Linked DNA regions of Homo sapiens: regions 1, 2 and 4 are each linked to region 3. Evidence: fine-mapped expression QTL. A gene starts in region 3. Each other region holds a variant in brackets. All regions are shown on one strand. Distances are between the middles of the regions.

Region 1 (5,274 bases), 940 kb after region 3:
TAGTGAAAATATTTTGGTGCATATTTATTTGGATTCTGTAGTGGAGAGGAAAACAAAATGGGAGATAATTGATTAATCTCTCCATTTATTCATTTATCTGTTCATTCATTTATTCATTATCCTGTTTCAGGGATACACCAATGAATACAACAGTCAAGATCTATTTTTATGGAGATTACATTCTATTGTAATCAAACAGAAACAGTAAAATAAAGAACAGACTGTGTGATGCTCTGAGAAAAAAACAAAGTAGGCTAAGAAGATGGAGAATATTGATGAGACATTGCTCTTTTAGTTGGGGTTGTCAGGTGAGATATCTTTCATATAGTGGCATTTGACTGGAATGAGACAATTACCCATATCAGTATATCTGTGTGTCTATATCTTTGTGTACATGTGGTTGTATAGTTATATATATTGTAAGGGGTTGAAAACAGGCCACCCCAAAATATGACATCTTGGCATATTGATTATTTTGAGTTAAAGGCACTTGAAAAACAGCAGATGCAACAAGGGCACCTTGACCTGCTTTTTATTCCTAAAAGCAGGAGATTAAACTTCCATGTAAAGGATGCTCTTCACATGGGAAGGAAGGAAGACATTCTTGTCACCAGAGATGAGGAGGCAAGGCTGAGAGAAATCTGTACAAACTAACCTTGTCAAACTAACTCTTATCTTCCTAGTCATTTTTCCACAGTTAACTGGCCGAGCCCAAGCCCCTTGTCTTGCCATATTTTCACAATTTACTGCTCTTTGTCCAATCTAGTATACAAGCTTTCAGCTCTAAATGCTTCTTTAGGTCTTCATTTTCCTTCTGAAGGCTCCCATGCACATAGAAAACTTACTAAATAAAATGTGTATGCTTTTCTCCTGATAATCTGTCATATGTTAGTTTAATTCTTAGGCCCAGCTAGAGATGCTAATAGGCTACAGAAGAAATTTTATGTCCATGACAGTATTCTAGGAATGTATATATACATATCTATACATCAGATATGTACATATGTGTTGTGTGTATGTAATCTGGAGGTGGAGTTATGGACAGAGGGAATACATCCTAAGATAGAAATGTGTTGTTGGAATAGCAGGTGCCAGTGTTGCTTAAATAATGTGAGAGAGCATGTGAAACATGTGACATGAGACCAGAGAGGTAATTGGAGACCAGATAATATGTGCTGTGTAGGTCATTATAAGAATTTGGCTTTGCCTCTGAGTCCATTGATGGGTTATAAACAGGGAAGTAATATGATCTGACGTAGGATTTCAAGACTCTTTCTGGCTACTATGGGAGGAAAAATACCATGGGGTAAGCAAGGGTAAAAGTCAACAGACTAATTTGATGAATATTGTAGTAATCTATTTGAAAAGTCATGGTGACTTGAACTCAGGTGATAGGAGAAGAGGTGGTAAAGAAATGATTGGAGTCTGAATGTGCTCTGAAAATGGCAGTTATAAGATTTGCAGAGAGAGTATGTGGGTAGACCCGAATAGAGTTTTGGCAGACTAGTAAATATCATAAACATCATGGAGAAGATAGGAAGACAGCATTCTACACATTTTAGAAGGCATGGGGGCTTAAGGACATAATGCATGCTTGAGGAATTAGAAATCTTCTGAAGAAGGAGAAGAAATGGTAAATGAGATATCAAAACTCAGTAGGCCCCAGCTTATGTTGGATAAACTTGGAGTTTATCCTGAAGGTGCTGAGGAGTCATTAAATAATTTTTGAAAGGGAGTGAGGCAGCATCATATTTATGTTTTAGGATGTTCCTGCTGACAGTAGAATGCAGAATGAACTGGAGAGAGCACAGAGTTTGAGGTTAGAGGCCACACTGGAGACTTTTGCAATATTTCATCTGAGAGATGATAGTGGAAATAACACTGGAAACAGAGAGGAGTGGGTAAGTAAAAGGTATTTAATGGGAAGAAGTGGTGGAAGGTAATAATTTGTTTGGTATAGGAGGTGGAAAAGAGTATAAAAGCAAGGACTATTTCAAATTTTCTGACTTGGGTAACTGCTGTATTGTGGTGGGACATCATTAGGATTGCCCACAAATAGCTCCTAAAAGGACATGAATAGAAAACTCATAGGGCTTGGTAGCAGAAGTATAGATCAAGAAGGATTGCTCAAGTGCTGGCACAGTAAGAATGTCAAGGCCTCGGCCGGAAGCGGTGGCTCAAGCCTGTAATCCCAGCACTTTGGGAGGCCGAGGCAGGCGGATCACGAGGTCAGGAGATCGAGACCATCCTGGCTAACACAGTGAAACCCCGTCTCTACTAAAAATACAACAAAAAAATTAGCCGGGCGTGGTGGCGGGCACCTGTAGTCCCAGCTACTCAGGAGGCTGAGGCAGGAGAATGGCATGAACCCGGGAGGCAGAGCTTGCAGTGAGCCGAGATCATGCCACTGCACTCCAGTCTGGGCGACAGAGTGAGACTCTGTCTCAAAAAAACAAACAAACAAACAAAAAAGAATGTCAAGGCCTCGAGGCCCAGGTAACACAGTAGCCTTATATGGTCTATTGTTTCAGAGTGATAAGGTAGCAACAGATAAAGAGCTAGTGATTCCATAGTTTGAGCCAGGCATGGTGTGTTCTTCCTATAA[T/A]CCCAGTTACTCAGGAGGTTGAGGCAAGAGGATCACTTGAGGCCAGGAGTTTGGGCCCATAGTCCTGTTATTCTCTGACTTGGCATACTTGTTCCTCTCTATGGGTGGTCAAGAACACCAAATTTTCAGCACTCCTTCTCATGAAAGAAGGGAAGAAATAGACCGTCATGTTCACCACTTTTATCCTTTGTACTTCCTATTGTCTCTTCATGAATAGACCAGAGAAAAGTACACTTGTGCCAAGGTCAAATCGTTACCACCTCTAATCTTTCAGCTATTACGAGACTTTATAATCTGGCCTAGCTCGTCTATGGATAATAATGTGTGTGCGTGAATAATAAAGAATGAACATATTCGTATGTAGAGGGGAGAGTAAAGGGGGACTATGTGTTATCTACAAAGAGATTTCCTGGGCCTGTAATTCAAGTTTAAAACCTATGTCTGGAGCTCAAAAAAGAGGCCACACTTCAATCATAGATATGGATGCCATTAGGTGAAATAGGAGATCTCAAGAAGTGGTTAGCATAAGGAGAGAAAAAAGTCAAGGATTGATTTGAGGAAACATCAGAATTCAAGCTATGAGGGCAGAAAGAACATCCTAGAAGAGGAAACTAAGATAGATGGGAAAGCAAGGAGAGAGTGAATCTTGGAAACCAAAGGAGAAGAGATATTTTTACAGTTATAGGGAGGCCAATCGAGGTAAGGAATAAAAACTCTCCTTTGGATTTAGCAACTGGGAAATAATAGATGATGTTAGCTATAGTAACTTTGAAAGTGAAGTAGAGAAATCAGATTTCAGTGGGCTAATTAAATGGCTCTGGAGACAGAGTGTATAGCACTCTTTCTGAAATATAGGCTTTTAAGGAAAGAAGAGACTGGATGATGGCTAGAGGAGATCAAAGAAGATTCATTAAAAATGGCAGAGACTGTAGAATGTTTTATTTTATTTTTATTTCTTTATTATTATTATTATTTTGAGATGGCGTTTCACTCGCGTTCCCCAGGGTGGAGTGCAATGGCATGATCTCGGCTCACTGCAACCTCCGCCTCCTGGGTTCAAGTGATTCTCCTGCCTCAGCCTCCTGAGTAGCTGGGATTACAGGCATGCACAACCAAGCCCAGCTAATCTTGTATTTTTAGTAGAGACAGGGTTTCTCCATGTTGGTCAGGCTGGTCTCGAACTCCTGACCTCAGGTGATCTGCCTTTCTCGGCCTCCCAAAGTGCTGGGATTATAGGTGTGAGCCACTGCGCCCAGCCTAGAATGTTTCTATGTTGAAGAGAGAAGCATATCTTTGGCAAATTTGAAGAGGCATTGTTTGAACAGACTATATGTGGGATTTATTAGTCTGTTTTCTGTTGCTTTTAAAAGAATAACTGAAACTGGATAATTTATAAAGAAAAGGAATTTATTTCTTACAGTTATGGAGGTTGAGAAATCCAAGGTCAAAGCCCACATTTGGTGAGGGCCTTCTTGCTGGTGGGGCTCCTTGTAGGGTTCCAAGGCAGCACAGGGCATCGCATGGTAAGGGGGCTGAGCTTGCTAGTTCATGTTTCTTGTCCTCTTCTTAGAAAGCCACCAGTTCCACCCTCATGGCAACCCATTAATCTTTTAATCCTTTATCCATTAATCTATAAAAAAGATTAATCTATTTATGAGGGCAGAGCCCTCATGACCCTATCACTTCTTAAAGGTCCTTCGTCTCAATACTGCCACAATGGGGATTAAATTTCAACATGAGTTTTGTAGGGGACAAGTATTCAAATCATAGCATGGGATAAGCTATAGAGTGAAATAATAGATAAAGCAGATGATTACATTATTCTGAAGTTTGGATTTCACCTAGATATTTTTGTCAAAGAATATTTGCACAGGGGTGTCAAAGTGATGGTTGGGAGAGTAGTTTAAGTGATAGAATACCAAGTCTAGACTAGTAGGAGTTGAAGCCAGGAAAGGATTAACTAATTAAAAGTATCTCTCTATCTCACAAGTACTGGAAGGTTAAAGTGAGAAAATGATGTTACTACACATAGTGTGTTTTCCATTAATACTAGCTCTCTTTATTCTGAATGCTCAGAAAAAGATATAAGAATACTGAAGAATATGAGACCCCAAAATGAATCAACATTAGAGAGCTCATTATGAGCTCTAAGCAAACTAGTCTCAAATAGGACCCTGTAGAAACTGGACAGAGGAGACACAACAAAGGCAAATCAGGAATTCACAGTCTGTTCATGAACCTTAATAAAGAAAAGGGCTTGAGGAAATCCGTGGCACAATGGTCATGATTCAGACAGCTTATCAAGAGCTCATGAAATGCTGTACTTGTGAGTTCTCTTTGAATAGATACTATAAATGCTACACTCTTAGGAGAAAAAGAAGTGCTAGAAATATATCTAGTGATCTCCGAGACAAATGGAGCAGACCAACTCTGTGACTGATTTTGGCCTTATTCCTAGTTAAAGGCAGATGCCACTAAATATGGACCCATTCACAGTCCACAATGAACTCCTATGATCACGTATGTATTTCAAAATATGCTTTTAAATTTTTTTACTTATCCTTATACTTCATACTTTTATTTTTTTTTTGCATTACATTTTTTTCCAAAAAGCTTTGAAGAAGGAGCCTTTGCTGAAAGAATCTGTATTTCAAATAATTCCTCTCTAT
Region 2 (5,274 bases), 99 kb before region 3:
CCTACATTGTGTTAGTTGTTGTCTGTTTTCAGACAAGGTCTTGCTCTGTCACCCAGGCTGGAGTGTGGTAGCACAATCATGTCTCCCTGCAGCCTTGAACTCCCAGGCTCGTGTCATCCTACCTCAGCCTCCTGAGTAGCAGGACTACAGAAGTGCTCCATCATGCACAGCTAAATTTATTTTTTGTAGAGATGCGATCTTGCTATGACGCCCAGGCTAATCTTGCACTCCTGGGCTCAAGTGATCCTCTCACCTTAGCCTCTGAAAATGTTAGGATCACAGCTGTGAGCCACCACATGCAGACCCTACATTGTTTTTCAAGATAAAGTTAAAATGTATTTATGAAGTCTACTAGGAAAGAAAATTAAATTCTAATGCTTACATTTCCCCCTATAATTTTGCCAACAGTGAATTTCTATTATGTACCTTAGACATAATCGAATGTTTTCAGCATTCAAATAAAAAAGCTCATGAATATCGTTTCTAAAACTCAAAACGCAATTTATTCACCTTCCAGATTCAGGCAAAATCCCTGAAAGACTAGATATAAAAGCAAAAGCTATAACATATTACATAAGTAAAATCACAAAAATGAGTCATGAAGAAAAAGCCACCATGACTGTTAAGTGCACACATATCAAAAGAGAAGCATGCAATTTGCAATTTTGTGACATTATATTCAGGTTTAAAAATCTGCATTTAGGTGGGAAAATTTCAAGGTGTATATACATTTACACTTGTAATGCCAGATCAGGAAAAGTAAATGAATTAAATCTTTCATTTCCCAAAGCACTAGTACCAAGGGCACAGCATAAAATGAGGTTATGGCCCAGCATTTGATGGACACAGTTTTTGGTGTGCCTGCTGATACTAGTATTAATTTCTGTTGTCCAACAGATTTCTCACATTAGTTAAAATTGTTCAATAATTCTACTTTTTCAAAAACCCTTTATCTAATAAAGGCTCCATAAATGGCAATACATTTCCTAAAGAAATTACTAAAGCTTTCTTTACTCCCTATATTTTTATATTTCTGTATCATTTTATTAGCAAAAGACTGAATATCTTTATACACAAATTATAAAGTCATTTAACTCAATTATTTCCATAAAAGTTACTTTTACATAGCATTTAGATAATAATGTATGTAATTTATTGTTCCAATTTATTACTCCAATTGTTCAAGATCAAAACGTTTTATAAATATTTTAAATATAAAAGGTGTTTTTGTACCAAACTATTTCATACTTAAATTATGCTAGACTATATATATATGTATATATATATGTGTGTGTGTGAGAGCAAATGCATATATAGTTATTTAGAATTTAATCTGAACTGATGACAGCATAGTTTCTCAACGGGTAAAAACATTTTACTCAGCAGGAAAAATGTAAATTATTCACTCTTTTTTTTTTTTTTTTTGAGACAGAGTCTCACTCCGTCACCTAGGCTGGAGTACAGTGCTGTGATCTTAAATCACTGCCTCCTGGGTTCAAGCAATTCTCATGCCCCAGCCTCCCAAAGCTGGAATTACAGGTATATGCCACCATGCCTGGCTAGTTTTGTTTTGTTTTGTTTTCTTTTTAAAAAGTAGAGATGGGGTTTCACCATGTTGACCAGACTGCTCTTGAACTCCTGACCTCAAGTGATCCACCTGCCTCGCCCTCCCAAAATGATGGGATTACAAGCGTGAGCCACTATGCCTGGCCCTGAATTATTCACTTTTACGTAGCATTTATTTTTCATATTTCCTCACCGCCAAGGAAAATGCACCCTACTTGTAGCAAGGAAAAGGCTGATTAAAAGTTGAGAAAGTTCTCAGTACTTCAACTTGGTTACAAATAAGAAAATTTTAAAAATGTAAACAAAACCCTATTAAAAAGAGCAGAGGATAATATGTGTTGACAGGGTTTCAATAAGCAGACTGGAAATCTTATGTTTCACATATCTAAACTTTGACTTTAACAGGTGAAATGAGAGTGGTAAAGGTAAGGGGAAAAAACAGATTTAGACAAAAAATGTTTTTAAACCCCCAAGTAGGCCTCTATAATTAGACTTTTCCCACCCTACCTAAGTCCTCTTAATGAGGAAAGGAAAGTTCTAAAGCCATTCAGACTTCTGACTCAGAGAATGGGGGTGGGGTTGGGGGGGAAGGCAACCATATATGACTTCTTATTGAACCCAAGAAAAATCATCTAATATTTTTGCCACGTGCAATACTCTCTCACAGGTTGCCTCTACTTTCGTATCTATAAAATTAAGAACAATTACTCGAAATTACTATTTCATGTCTTCCCTAAGACATTAGCTTTTTATAACATAGTATTTGGAAAGTAATCAAGCATGGGGAAAAAAGCAGTAATATGTGTTCTTTGTCCTACAATTTTAAGGTAAACTTTATAGAATCTTGGATTTCCAAACACCATTTAATAAAAGAGGGATTTAAATTTAATACCAAGTACAAAAATGGAAAGATCATAGTTTCTCAAAGTGTAAACTATCTGAAGAGATAGAGTACTTTACATTGCTTAAATAAACCTGGTGCAGTGCTACGCAAAAACCAGCCAAACTGATAATAAACTATCTGAGTACTGTCTCTCACTTTACAATATAATTT[C/T]GTTCTCTCTGCCGCAGTCACTATTTACCACACCACACCCGGCCTCCTGTAATGGCTTCCTGATATCTCTGCCTCACATCTCTGTCCATTCCAATTAGACTATATGATGCTACAAAACTGAAAATATCAATTTCTTCAAGTTACTTTCAGAGGCTCCTTCCTGTCCACATATCAAAGTCAAAATAATTCCTTAGCCTATAGACATTTTAAGCACACTATACATTAATGGATGCACAATCAAGATCTCTACCATAGCATACCTATATTACTATTTGGCTATTTTAAAAAATCGTATCTTCATGATTTACATGTCCTACAGCCCCAATTTTGAACTTTCCCCCAAAACCACAAACTTCCTACCATCATTTTGGTGTTGACTTTTATTAACAGATGAGCCTGACATCTACCTTACTGGGAAGACAGAACTATACCCAGAAATACACTTTTGAGTGCCCTCTTTACTACTTAAAGGTTTTTTTATACTTTCATTTATCTTCTGTCTTTTATTCTCTATGGCAGAAATGTCCTTTCTCATTTTAATATCAACCTGTTTACTTGAGTTCATAATTTCACTTTTTTTGGTCTATAATATTTCCCTATCAGTTATTCCCTTTCTAGGAAATTTACTCTGCTTTTGTCCCTAGGTCCTAACCCAACAAATACGAATTCCCACTCCGTAAATCTTATTTTAGGGCTGTTAGGTTTTTGTTGATTTTTTTCCATAAAAGTCCAATTTGGAGGGAGAAAAAATTACAGGCATTTTTGTCTTTCACATTAATTGCACAAACTCATTAAAATTACTGCTGTGAGCTATGCTGTAAAATTTTATGTGTATGCCTGCTGCCCCCACCTCCCACCTCAGGTACTGCTGAAACAACAAGGTCATTTCCCATAGGGAAGAGAATATATATGCTTTCTGGATAGGTGAGGTTTTAAAACTTTTTATTTAGAAGTAATTAGAGGCTCACAAGAAGTTATTTAAAAAAAAAAAGCACAGAAAGGTCTCATGTACCCTTTATCCAGCCTCCTCCAATGGTAACATTGCATAACTCTACTACACAATAGCATAACCAGGACACTGACATTGGTACAATGTCAGACCTTATTCATATTTCATCAGTTTTTACATGCATTAGTGTATGTGTATGGGCATGTATGGTTCTAAGCAATTCTAACATATGTACAGATTTGTGTACCACAACTAAAGTGGTATTTTAAAATACTCACTTTCATGCTAGTCAGGTTTCCATCAAACTGATAATGGGCTCAAAAATCAGAGATAAACATGGTTTTTGGTCTCAAGAAATAGAACTTGGATATATCACACAACACAGAGAAAAGGATAAAGTACAATGAATGGAAACCAGAATTGTATTCTGGTTTTAAACTAAACTAGGAAATATATTCAAGTCAAAACTTTTTCAAATTTTTAAACTGAATCCTTTAAGCAAGTTTAACCACCAAAAAACAACACACTCGGGATATACTACCCAAATAAAACTACCTTCTGTAAAGTCCTCAGTATTATTTCCCAGATTCTGTTGAAGATTAGTACAAGAAACAATCACATGGAAAACATCTGGGCAACTTTTGTAGAACCGTCACTAGGTACACTATAATGCCAGTAAATATCCTTACATATTGTAACTAGGTATGTGCACAGAATCATCTAGGGAATTAATGACATCCTGATAAGTCCCTCCTACTATTTTGTCTCAAAAGTTGTTTGATTAAAGAACTAAAATATTCCTTTTTATCATAAAATAAAAATTACAAGGCATATCAAGTTGTTTTTTCACATAGGCTGCCAAGAAGCTCAAGTGAAATCAGTGCTTATACACAGTTAAGCACATTATCCCTGCTTCCCACCAGATTTATCTTTGCCTCTCTTTATATGGCTTCTGGCTTTTATATCTTTATGGAAATACCTTTTGTATGTTATTGTATGTATTACACTGAGTCACACACACTTTTTATATAAACATACTTAATCCACACAAGCTTACTTTACCAAGGAGGAAATTAAAATCAGAAAAATTAAATGACAACTTAGTGAATGGTGGAGCTGGAAATCACATTCATTTGCAATACCAACTTTCTAGGGGTTATATTAAAATTTTATACATTTATAATTATATTAATTTGTAAACAAATTCTTTTCTAAGCAATGCACTATTTGGTTAATTTCTTAAAAAACAGCTACAGTTAATATTCTTATTAATTTTCATTCTGATAAAAAAACATATTTAGTGTGTGCTCTGTAATTGTCCTCAGGTTGTGTTCCTTTGTTCATTTTATTTTCTCTACCATTTAAAAAGCTCTTTAATGGCATATGCTTGTGTTTAGAGCTTATGATAGTGTTACAAAACAACATCTACTTCAATCTATATTTAGAATGTCTTTATAGTGGAATGCTTTCATGTGATAATAGTCATAACTACTATCTCTAAAAGTAGCAGTAACATATTGTTGTTTATTCTTATACACATGATGTACTTTAATAATAAACTCATAAAATACAACAGATTGATGAAAACTGAAGAATCTTATTTTTACGCTACTTACTGACTGATAATTCTATTTTATTCTAAAACTGAATAACACAGAAAATAGGGTAAATACAAAGACTTGCATGAGACTTTAATAACATACCT
Region 3 (5,274 bases):
AATATGTACCAACCCAAATGTTTGTTCAGATGAAGACTATATCTTCAGGTTCAAAAGTTGAAAATAATAGGTGGCTTTAAGTTCAACAATTTGCCAAAGATTTACTGAATTTCTATTTGAAAAGCACTGTGGGGAACACAAAAAATAATAAGACACTTTTCATCTTCTGGGACTCATGATTAAATGCACAGCACACACATAAACAACTTTATTATATGGTAGATTACGTAAGTGCTAAAAAGCTTCTAACAAGGTACAAACAGTGCTTATGAAGAGACAGATTAACCAAAGAGTATCAGAGATGGCTTCAAAATGAGAGATAGGTTTCTATTTGGCCCTTTTTAAAAATCAAGCAATAGCACTCAAGATTTTGAAGATTATTTTTAAGTAGATAATTTCTTTTAGGTATTTTTATTCACCAGTGTTGTAACGGAATTGGATTTTTTCCACTGAAAAAGTACGGATTTAACATGTAAGCTAAAATGTTAAATGGATTGTTTAAGGCTCACCTGGAAACATGGGAAAATATATTTTGCAAGCCAAACTTGAACTTACAGTCCAATATCAGATAGGGTTATTGGACATACTGTATATTTCCTTTGAACATACACACACTTATCTGTGTATGTATGTTCAAAGGAATTTTATTTCAAAGTGTATTTTATCTGTGTATGTTCAAAGGGAACACACATAAACGTGTGTATGTTCGACGGAAATATACAGCTTGTCCAATAATCTGATATAATACCTATTTAAAAATCTACTTTAAGAGAAAGGCAGACACGCATAAATGGGCCACCCAATTTTTACAGAAATTTGTTCAGCATATCGAGTACTCACGTTAAAAAGAAAAAACAACTGAAAATAAAATTCAGAGCCCTAGACCTTTTTTGATTCATACCACCTCCTCCGTCAACCCTGGCCTCTTCCAGATATATGGCCAAAGGTCGGGATCAAAGCCTGAAGCATTTGCTGTTCCAGAAAACTCTATGGACACCATTCCCAGGTTTAGATACTTCTTGAAGATTCTGAGTTGCACCACCTAACTCTGAACGTGTTGAGCACTGTATTAACAGATGAAAGGACCACATTCATCTCAAGCTTTAAATAACTCGCACAGAAGGGGTGGGAAAAGTCCCAGCTGACAGATGCCAAGGGAGCAAATTTTAAAAAGAGGAAATTATGACAGACAGGAGTGGAAGCAAACTGGGGAACTTAGTACAAGTCGCTACTATTAAAAGAAACTTTGAGCTCTTAATTACATGACAGCATTCATCAGACGTTTCTGTGATTACTGAATGTAACAGTTAAGCAATAGATGATGTAAAAAAATTAGGTCAAATGTATATATCGTTTTATAAAACATATTTGCTCTTAAATCTCTCATCCAAACCAATCTCTTCAGATTAACTATAAATACAAAGGAACTAAAATCAGATTATGCAGATTAGACAGGAGGAAGCTGGGAAAGAATAACTACCATGTAAGTTCGGTAACAACGTTACAGGGCGCAGTTTCCTGCTACAGAAGACGGACGAAGGAATCCAGAAAATAGGCTGGGCACGGGAATATTGCACACTGTAGTCACCCAGCACTAATTCAACAGCTAGCGGCTCTATCCTGCCTCACGTTCCTCGTGGCCTCTGACAAGTCATCCTTTCAACCTATGAGGCTGTCCGCTCTCCCCCTTGGAAAATAATTTCCGTGCAGGTTGTAAGATCTCCCTCACAAACTACTTGCTTCCACTTCCCCGCCCGGGATGAGGAGTCTCCACGACGGGGAAAGGTCGCACTGACAGAGAAGGAAGTTACACGAAGTGGTAGTGGTCGGACCCGAGCCTCGAGCTCAGTACACGCGGGGGAAAAGGAAGCGGGCGGCCTCTGGAGAAACGGGGATGGAGCTGCAGATGCGAGCCCGCGAGGCAGGCTCCGTGGTGCCCGGGCACCGGCAGGAAGAATGGAGGAGGGGAGGCGAGGCTGCGAGGTGCCGGGGAGCCGGGCGGCGGTCCGGCCCGCGGCCGACCCCACCCCAGCCCGCGCTCGGGACCCTCCCAGCCCCGGCACCCGGCGTGCGTTCCGCGTGCGCCGACTCTCCCCGGAGGAACAGCCACCGTCTCACACCCGGGGACTGGAGAAATCCGGCAACTTTGCGCGAGAAATGCTTCCCACCCTGCAGCACGCCGAGAAAGAAAAAAATGTCAGGCGATGACGGCGGAGGAAGGATGACTTACCCATGTTGCTCCCCGAGGGTGAGGAACCGGCGGGGCGAGGCGAAGGTCTGTGGTGCGGGCGGCGCGGCTCTGTGTCCTCCCTCTACCTCCGTCTCTCCCGCAGCCAGGGAGGGACCCGCGGGGGGCGGCCGCCGGGGAGGAGCAGCTGGTGCTGCTGCAGGCGGCGCGGCCGCGGCGGGGACGAGCGGCGGGGGGCGGGGCGGGGCGGGGCGGGGCGGGACTGGCGGGCGCAGCCTGCGGCGGGCGCGGCTCCGAGCGGGCGGGCGGCGGAGGCGCGGGAGCCGGCCTGAAGAGCTCCGGCCCCGACTCGCAGCCCACGAGCGCCCCGCCCTCCCCACCGAGCATGCTCAGTGCCTTTTCCACCCCTCCCTCTGTGGCGAGCGAGGCTAAGCGTGCGGGTGGGCGTGTGTTTGCAGACCGGCTGCAGCCGCGGCAGAGGATCTTCATGGCGGCCGCCTGAGAGGCGGAGGGCGGGCCCGGAGAAAACAGGGAATGGGGATATTGAGCCCGATCTGCTAGCAGAGGACTCACCGCTGCCTTGCTTTCCCACCCTGACCCACCAACCCCTCACCCGGAACCCGGGCTTGCCTTCTTTACGGGACGACCGGGCCGCACAGGCCGGAATTAACCGGAGAAGAGGCTGGGCCGCCGCAGAGCCGGGAGGGGTGGTGGGAAGCCAGAGCTGACGAAGTTGGAAAGGACGTGTAGGCGACTAGGCCTGCGCCTCTTGGGGACACCTGAGGACGCCCGCTGGGCAGCTGGCTGAGGAGGGGCCGCCGGGAGGGCGCTCGATAGCAGGCGTGTCATTGGGACACTTAAGGCTGCTCTAGCTGTGGCCAGCTTAGAAACAAAGGTCCCGGCAGCGAGGAGAGCGCCCGCCCCAGGATTTCCTCGAAGAGTGTGTCGTTCTCCCTCCCGGAGGAGCGCGGCCTTCCGTTCCCCGGAGGGCTCTGGAAAGGCCCTTTAACCGGGGTGCCGTCGGGCTCCATCCTGCTGTGAAAGCGGGAGGAACTACGTTCCCCAGGCTTGAAAATAAGCGTCCTGCTGGGTTGGCTGCGGCACTGCCAAAGCTAACCCGGCGGAGGTCCTTTGATCCCGGGGCCACCGCCCGCTCCCACCACCACCTCGGCCTCGGGGAGAACCTGAGCAGGGCTCTCCCACTGAGGGCGTCCTCCCGACTGGGCATGCACGTGAGGCCGGGGCTGGCTTCGGTCCTCTTCCCTGGGGTAGGAGGCTGGAGGAAACCGATTTCTCTGCACCCTAATCTTGCCCTGGCTCCTCCTGAGTGGGGTGAGGAATCTGGTCGCTCTCCAAGGCTACAGCGACCGGAGTCCTTCAGGGGACACTGTGCAGTCAGCAGTACAACCTGTTGGAGAAAGATGGCTGAATCGAGGTGTCTTTCCCCTGTCAACTTTCACTCGGTCAATCCAATGTTGAGAAAGGGCTTTTTTTGTTTGTTTGTTAATTAGTCGCCTATTCTCACAGTCATCAGTTTCTGCTTGGTGACTAGTATTTCGAGCACACAAATCAGAAGCGACCCTGTAATTTGTTAAGCAAAGAGCAGATTTTATGTGATTTTTCTACAGCAAGAAACGATAATTAAAAAGGTTTGGTAAAACAGGAAAATACAATTTAACTGCTGAAGTCAAATATATGGGACTTTTCTGATGCATGAGACTATCAGGCACCTCACTCTTAGGATGTTCTTCTTGTTTGCCTCTTAAAATAATCGCACTACATTAGTTCCCTAGGGCTGCCGTAACATACCACAAATTGGGTGACTTAAAACAACAAATTATTATCTCACAATTCTGGAGGCCAGAAGTTTGAAATCAAGGTGTAGGCAGGGCTGTACTCCCTCTGAGGGCACTGGGGAGGGATCTCGTCCATGCCTCTCCTAGCTTCTGGTAGTTTCTTGGCATATGGTAGCGTAACTCCAATCTGAACATGGCTGTTCTCCCAGTGTGCTTGTGTGTTCAAATTTCCCTTTTTAATAAGAACAGCAGTCATAACGGATTAGGGGCGAACCATCCTCCAGTATGACCTCATGGACGTTAATTATATCTGCAATGACCCTATTTCCAAATCAGGTCACATTCTAAGGGACTAAGGGTTAGGACTTCTACATATGAATAGGGCCAGCCTGGCCAACATGACGAAACCCCATCTCTAACTAAAAATACAAAAAATTAGCCAGGGCCAGGCACAGTGGCTCACGCCTGTAATCCTAACACTTTGGGAGGCTCAGGAGGGCAGATCACTTAAGTCAGGAGCTGGAGATCAGCCTGGCCAACATGGCAAAACCCTATTTCTACTAAAAAATAAATAAAATAAATAAATTAGCTGGGCATGGTGGCACGTGTCTGTAATCCCAGCTACTTGGGAGGCTGAGGCAGGAGAATCGCTTGAACCCGGGAGGCGGAGGTTGCAGTGAGCTGAGATTGCACCACTGCACTCCAGCCTGGGCCACAGAGCAAGACCCTGTCTCAAAAAAAATAAAAATAAAAAAAAAGAATCCGGGAGGGGTACACAATTCAACCCATAATACACCAATGCAGACCCCACCCTCAGGGCCCCTCACTGCCCCCACATCGGCCATGTTACACATTAATTTTATTACTCCTCCAGAAGACCAGCCTGGGCCTTTGCATTGCTGCTCATCATTTTTTGTTCATCTCTCCTTAACACTCATTAATCTCTTCCAGATTGTCAAGTTAACTTGCTTTATTTTTCCTACTTCCTTATCTAATTACATATTATAATAATTTCATGGAGTATCTTCTATCATTTATTTGGATGTAAGCGTTGAAATTAGCAAAAGCAGCTGAAGTGGCTTTCTCATTTCCCATCTGACACTAGTTAAAGTGCCTTTTTTGTTCTACTTCAATCTACAAGCCATCTCCTTAGCCTTCCTGCCAATTAAAACCAAAGGATTGTTCAGGCTTAGTGCATATACTGAGTCCTAATGCACCGGTGTTGTAACCATAGTGAGAACCAATACTGATTGTTATATGCAGAAGTGAATTACTTCCAGACTGGTATAT
Region 4 (5,274 bases), 190 kb before region 3:
AGGGAATCCTCCCTAGGTCATTCTGTGAAGCCAGTATCACCCCAATACCAAAACCAGGAAAGGACATAACAAAAAAGGAAACTACAGACCAATATCCCTGATAAACGTAGATGTAAAAATCCTCAAGAAAATACTAGCTAACCAAATTCAACAGCATATCAGAAAGATAATCCAACATGATCAAGTGGTTTTCATACCAGGGATGTATTCTGCATCCCTGCATACTTAACATATGCAAGTCAAAAAGTGTGATACACCACATAAACAGAATTAAAAACAAAAATCACATGATCATCTCAATAGATGCAGAAGAAGCATTTGACAAAATCCAGCATCCTTTATGATTAAAACCCTCAGCAAAATTGGCATAGAAGGGAAATACCTTAAGGTAATAAAAGCCATCCTGACAAACCCACAGTCAACATTATACTGAATGGGAAGAAGTTGAAAGCATTCCCCCTGAGAACTGGGACAAGACAAGGATGCCTACTTCCAGTACTTCTATTCAACATAGTGCTAGAAATCCTAGCCAGAGCAATTAGGCAAGAGAAAGAAATAAAGGGCATCCAAATTGGTAAAGAGGAAGCCACACTGTTGCTGTTTGCTGGTGACATGATCATATGGAGAGAAAAGCCTTTTCAAGATAGGAGGAAGTCATGCCAGCACATGGAAGGGCTATGAGGTACACATGGGCACTTGGAAAGCTAAGGAGAAAGGCTATGAGCTAACCAAGCACACGACCATCCCCTCTGCCTTCTCTAAGAGCTCAAAGTCTCAGACTATCAGCAAAAGACTTTGGATGTCTGAGAGAACATGCTTTTCATAAGGATGATGGGGGTAGGGGATGGTTGTGTCCGGGGCTATGCCCCATATGCTGGGCATGAGGGTATCCTGATGATTAATCCAGAGGATGTGTCAGGCAGGATTCCAGAAAGTTTAGGGGAGCAGAAAAATCTCTGAACCATCCTGGGATATAATGTCTCCTTTACAGCAACATCTGGGAGCTGGGTGGCTCAGGATATCTGATCTCTTTAAGTATGGTGCTTTACTTGGCAAGTGATTATTAGTCTCTGAGTCAGAACTCAGTGGCCTCAAAAAGGATGGACGTTGAACAAAAATCCTGGGGTATCAATTCAGGAAATGGCTACCTACTTGACCAAACAAGGTGAGGACTCTTGTTGGCCAGGCCACACTCTGAGGACTTTAAGCAAAGTATCATTTCATTGCCCTTGGTTCTAGCTGGCGTTTTTCTACTCTGGCTGCAGATCAGAATCACCTTTGGAGCTTTAAAAAAATTCAGATACCCAGGCCCCAGTTCCAGGGATTTGATTCCCTAAGTGTTGGGAAAAGCACACTTTTTTTTTTTTTTAGACAGGGTCTTGCTCTGTCACCCAGTCTGGAGTACAGTGGCATGACCACGGCTCACTGCAACCTCTGCCTTTCAGGCTCAAACAATCCTCCCACCTCAACCTTTCATATAGCTGCGACTACAGGCACACACCACCATGTCTGACTAATTTAAGCAAACTTTTTAAAAAAATGGATCTATTGTTGGTGTTTCCTGGGGACCCTGAGGCAACACAATGATGTGTGAGTTTAGGAAGTGCCAAAGGGAGCACTGAGGCCTGCGGGGCTCAGTTTGTTTATGGAGCAACCCCTGTACTCATGGCTCAGCTGGAATAAGAACGTGTCCACTTGCCTATCTCCTCCTCAAGATCCTCTAGGCATCTCCAACCAAATGTGTCAAAGCCAACTCATTTTACAGGAACCCACTTTCCTTTCTGTGTTCCTCCTTTTAGTTAACATCACCACCATCTTCTGCCCAGTCACCCAACTCAGATACTTCAGAATGATCTTCTTTTCCAATCTCTAGCTCCATAAAAGTATCCCAGACCCTTCCTCTCTAAAAATCCTAGTTTAGGCATCAACAATTGTGAAGTGTTTGAGATTTTACCCTCCTTGCAAGCTAACAAGTTAGCCTGCCACAGGTACATAGATGCTGAGAGAAGGCCTGAGACTCCTGGGTCAGACTGAAAGGACTTTATTATGCATGCACCCCTGGTAAAATGAATCTCATGTTTGCAGTAGTTTCTCTTGCTTCCCAAGTC[C/T]GACAGGGAACAGTGGCCCAGATGGATACTTCACACACAGCAGGTTTATGCCCCAGCGAAGGAACTGAGTTTAGGAAACCCCAGTCTCATAAAGGGGCCTGCAAGTGATCCTGACCAAACTTTGCCCCCGAGGGAGACCTTATCTTGATTTCTGTACAGTAAAAATAAATCTGCCTGTCCCAGGGAGACACTGTCTCTATCTTACAAGGCTATTTGGCATATAAAGATCCTTGAAAAGGTAGTTAAAAAGAAAAAGCTGAAGCTGTCTTTCACAGAGGTATGGAAATACAAGATACCCATCGAGAATTGTCTCTCAACATCAGGAATTCATCACAATTACCTATTAATTTCCTTTCTGCTAGCCTGCCCCACCCCCATTAGCAATAATTCTGATTCTAGAACAAAACATAAAGCAAATATACCCATCTTTTATGTAGAAACCTTGGTTTTTCCGTTATATAATACAAAGTTAAAATGGCTAATGTCTACTCCCTGCTCCTGCCATCTCTTCTGCTCTATTTTCCTAGCCTTTTCTTTTGCTCCCACCCTTCCTTCCTATGTACCCTCTGCCCCAAGATGCCCAGAGCACCCAGAGTCACCTCTACAGAACCCCATAACTCTGTTCATGCCTTGGTTAAAGCCCTTACTTGTTTGCTCAATAATCAGGTTCATGTTTATCTTCTTCCAACACAGTGCCTGACATAGTAAGTGTTTAGTAAATCTTTGGGTAGTGAGGAAGGCTGTTGAGTTAGAGAGTCAGGCTTTTTGGTGTATTTTTGAACTTTGAGGGTTAAAACTGGTAGCCCCAGTTGTTTAAATCCTTTGGATTCTGTTGTCATGAGGTCTGTGGCCATGGCCTTTAAGCAGAACAAATTGTCCTAGGGGAGATTTTGATACATTAACGACTAGCTTCATGAATCAAGATTTCATTCCATTTGAAATAATGGAAAACCCTGCCTGAGGGATTTCAACGTCAGGTGTGTGTCTCCTGCCATCAGCATGAGGGTTCTCAGCATAGGGCCGCTACTCCAGCTTATTGATGCTCCTGTGGACCCAGGCTCTTTGTACCTTTCTGTTCCACTGTCCTTAAGGTACAGGCCTTCATCCTCAGGTTTCTACCTAATCGTTGCTGAAGGGCTGCATATTTGAGGCAAGAAGGAGGGGAAAAAAAGGAAAAGGTGAAGGGACAAAACAGCATTTGCCCAGCAGGTCTTTTCCTTTCTATTTACTAAAGGATGCCATATCTGGGGATTTCTATGGAACTGTAGCACTAGCTTGGAAAGCTGGAAAATGGGACTATTTGAAGCTTGACGTACTAGTCTCTGAACAAAATCGGGGTTCTGTTAATAAGGAGAGCTGGATATTGAAGAAATAATTCATATTTGCCACAAAGACATTTTTTGAACACTTATTGATACTATATTCTTTTTTCAAATATGGTAGGGATGTAAGAGTTCTGGCATGTTTTTGGCTATGGGTTGGCCATCCAGAGCAAACGCAAGGTTTGGCAACTATTCCTCTGCCATTGCCATGCTCTAGCTCCCGGTCTATGTAACCCTTGTTAGCTTAAGGCAAGGAGAATTATCTGGTCTTTCTTTGAGCCCACTGGGGCTTACTCACTCTGGGGTATATAGGGAACATGCTGTTCTTCGGTACATGCTGTCGTTGAAACATTTAGGAGCAGAATGTTTCTTTTCACTGGAATCTTGGCTGGAATGGAGCAGAACTTCTAATTATATGAGTCCTTTAAAATGAGGAGGCTCATTTCTGTGGGGTTGGCTATAAAGAGGAAATTGTGGTTGATCAGGTTAGCCTGGGAGGTTGGCAGGTAGAGTCTGTGTTAGGAATTCTCCAAAGGGAGGCCTCCAAAAGCAGAGCGCAATAAGCCTGGGTGAGCAGGCTTCCATATTATATAAGATCCCCTGACTCATGGGATAAAGATGATGATGAAGATGTCTTTGGCCTGAGGAGAAGGGCTATATTCCTGATCCAGCTAAGGGACTTTCTAAATCCCTGCAGTCCCACAAGCTGCTGCCAGCCCTGTGAGAGGAGAGGGAACAGGAGGGCCAGCACCAGCTCCCTCCTATCAGCAGGATGTGGTGAGTGCAGGCTTGGGCATGGCTTGCAGCTGTTTTCATGTTCCTGCCACTTGTCAGACTGCAGCTGTCACTGACTCTCAGGATGGCAAGTCTTCTCTGGGGGACTAAAGGCAGTGCAAGTTTGCACAGGTCATATAAATGACCTTGGGTCAAATATTTGGATCTTCCTTAAACATGGCCTTTCCCATAGTGCTGTTCTCTGTCCCTAAAAATCCATTTCCCTTTCTCCTGCTCTGGAAGCAGACAGCCTCCATCCACAGGGTCACAGATGCATAGGCTTCCAGGGGCTATGCAGTTTAGGTGAATGGCCAGGTGGGGATCTAATCCAGTAGAGAGACATATCCTGTCCAAAGGGGGCCCCACCCACATGCTCTTCTCCTGAAATGTAGAGTCCCTGGTTTCCAGATCTCCTCATTTTAAAAGAAAAGCCAGAGAAATGGATTTTTATGCAAAATCACTTACATTTTAAATGTTTAAAGCTATTCATTTTTTCTCCTTTTCTTCTTCCTTTTTTTTTTTTTTAAAAAATACCAGGCCGGACGCGGTGACTCACGCCTGTAATCCCAGCACTTTGGGAGGCTGAGGCGGGCGGATCACAAGGTCAGGAGATTGAGACCATCCTGGCTAACACGGTGAAACCATGTCTCTACTAAAAATACAAAAAATTAGCTGGGCGTGGTGGCGGGCACCTGTAGTCCCAGCTACTCAGGAGGCTGAGGCAGGAGAATGGCGTGAACCCGGGAAGCAGAGCTTGCAGCAAGCTGAGATGGCACCACTGCACTCCAGCCTGGGTGACAGAACAAGACTCCATCTCAAAACAAAACAAAACAAAAAACAACAACCATGTGGCCCAAACAACATGTGTGAGGGCCCCTAGTTTGTTTGCCATCCCTAGTCTATAGAGGAAGAAACAGATTGGCCAGGTGATAGAATCATGAAGAGCATGAAGAGTGTTTAATGATGACTCTTGTGGAAGAAGAGGCCCTCCACTCCTTCCCTCCCCTCTCCATGTGAGTGGTGCCTGGAGAGTGTTGATCAGCTTGGAAGAAATCAGAGTGGTGGTTCAC

Which allele goes with the higher level. Positions count from the first base shown, and alleles are read on the strand shown. Sizes are in standard deviations (SD) of each study's normalised expression. Not every link is listed here.
In carriers of allele T in region 2, the expression in spinal cord of the gene that starts at base 2,416 in region 3 tends to be lower than with C alone (large effect, 1.4 SD a copy in GTEx).

Evidence for each region.
Region 1: its variant is fine-mapped to the expression of RAP1GDS1 in whole blood (INTERVAL, PIP 0.99).
Region 2: its variant is fine-mapped to the expression of RAP1GDS1 in spinal cord (GTEx, PIP above 0.99).
Region 4: its variant is fine-mapped to the expression of RAP1GDS1 in CD4 T cells (CEDAR, PIP 0.95).

What each region holds. Positions count from the first base shown.
Region 1 is chr4:97,318,144-97,323,417 of GRCh38, reverse strand. No RefSeq gene overlaps it. Among named protein-coding and RNA genes, the nearest start is that of STPG2-AS1, 46 kb to the left of the region's middle. The variant T/A (reference allele first, on the strand shown) is at 2,606.
Region 2 is chr4:98,357,228-98,362,501 of GRCh38, reverse strand. The region is part of intron 4 of RAP1GDS1 (Rap1 GTPase-GDP dissociation stimulator 1); the gene reads right to left. Among named protein-coding and RNA genes, the nearest start is that of RAP1GDS1, 98 kb to the right of the region's middle. The variant C/T (reference allele first, on the strand shown) is at 2,621.
Region 3 is chr4:98,258,526-98,263,799 of GRCh38, reverse strand. RAP1GDS1 (Rap1 GTPase-GDP dissociation stimulator 1) reads right to left here and starts at 2,416. Exons shown (of 15, transcript NM_001100427.2): 1 at 2,231-2,416. The coding sequence starts at 2,234. RefSeq lists silencers at 2,126-2,195, 2,296-2,595 and enhancers at 2,562-3,124, 2,876-3,175.
Region 4 is chr4:98,448,068-98,453,341 of GRCh38, reverse strand. No RefSeq gene overlaps it. Among named protein-coding and RNA genes, the nearest start is that of RAP1GDS1, 190 kb to the right of the region's middle. The variant C/T (reference allele first, on the strand shown) is at 2,109.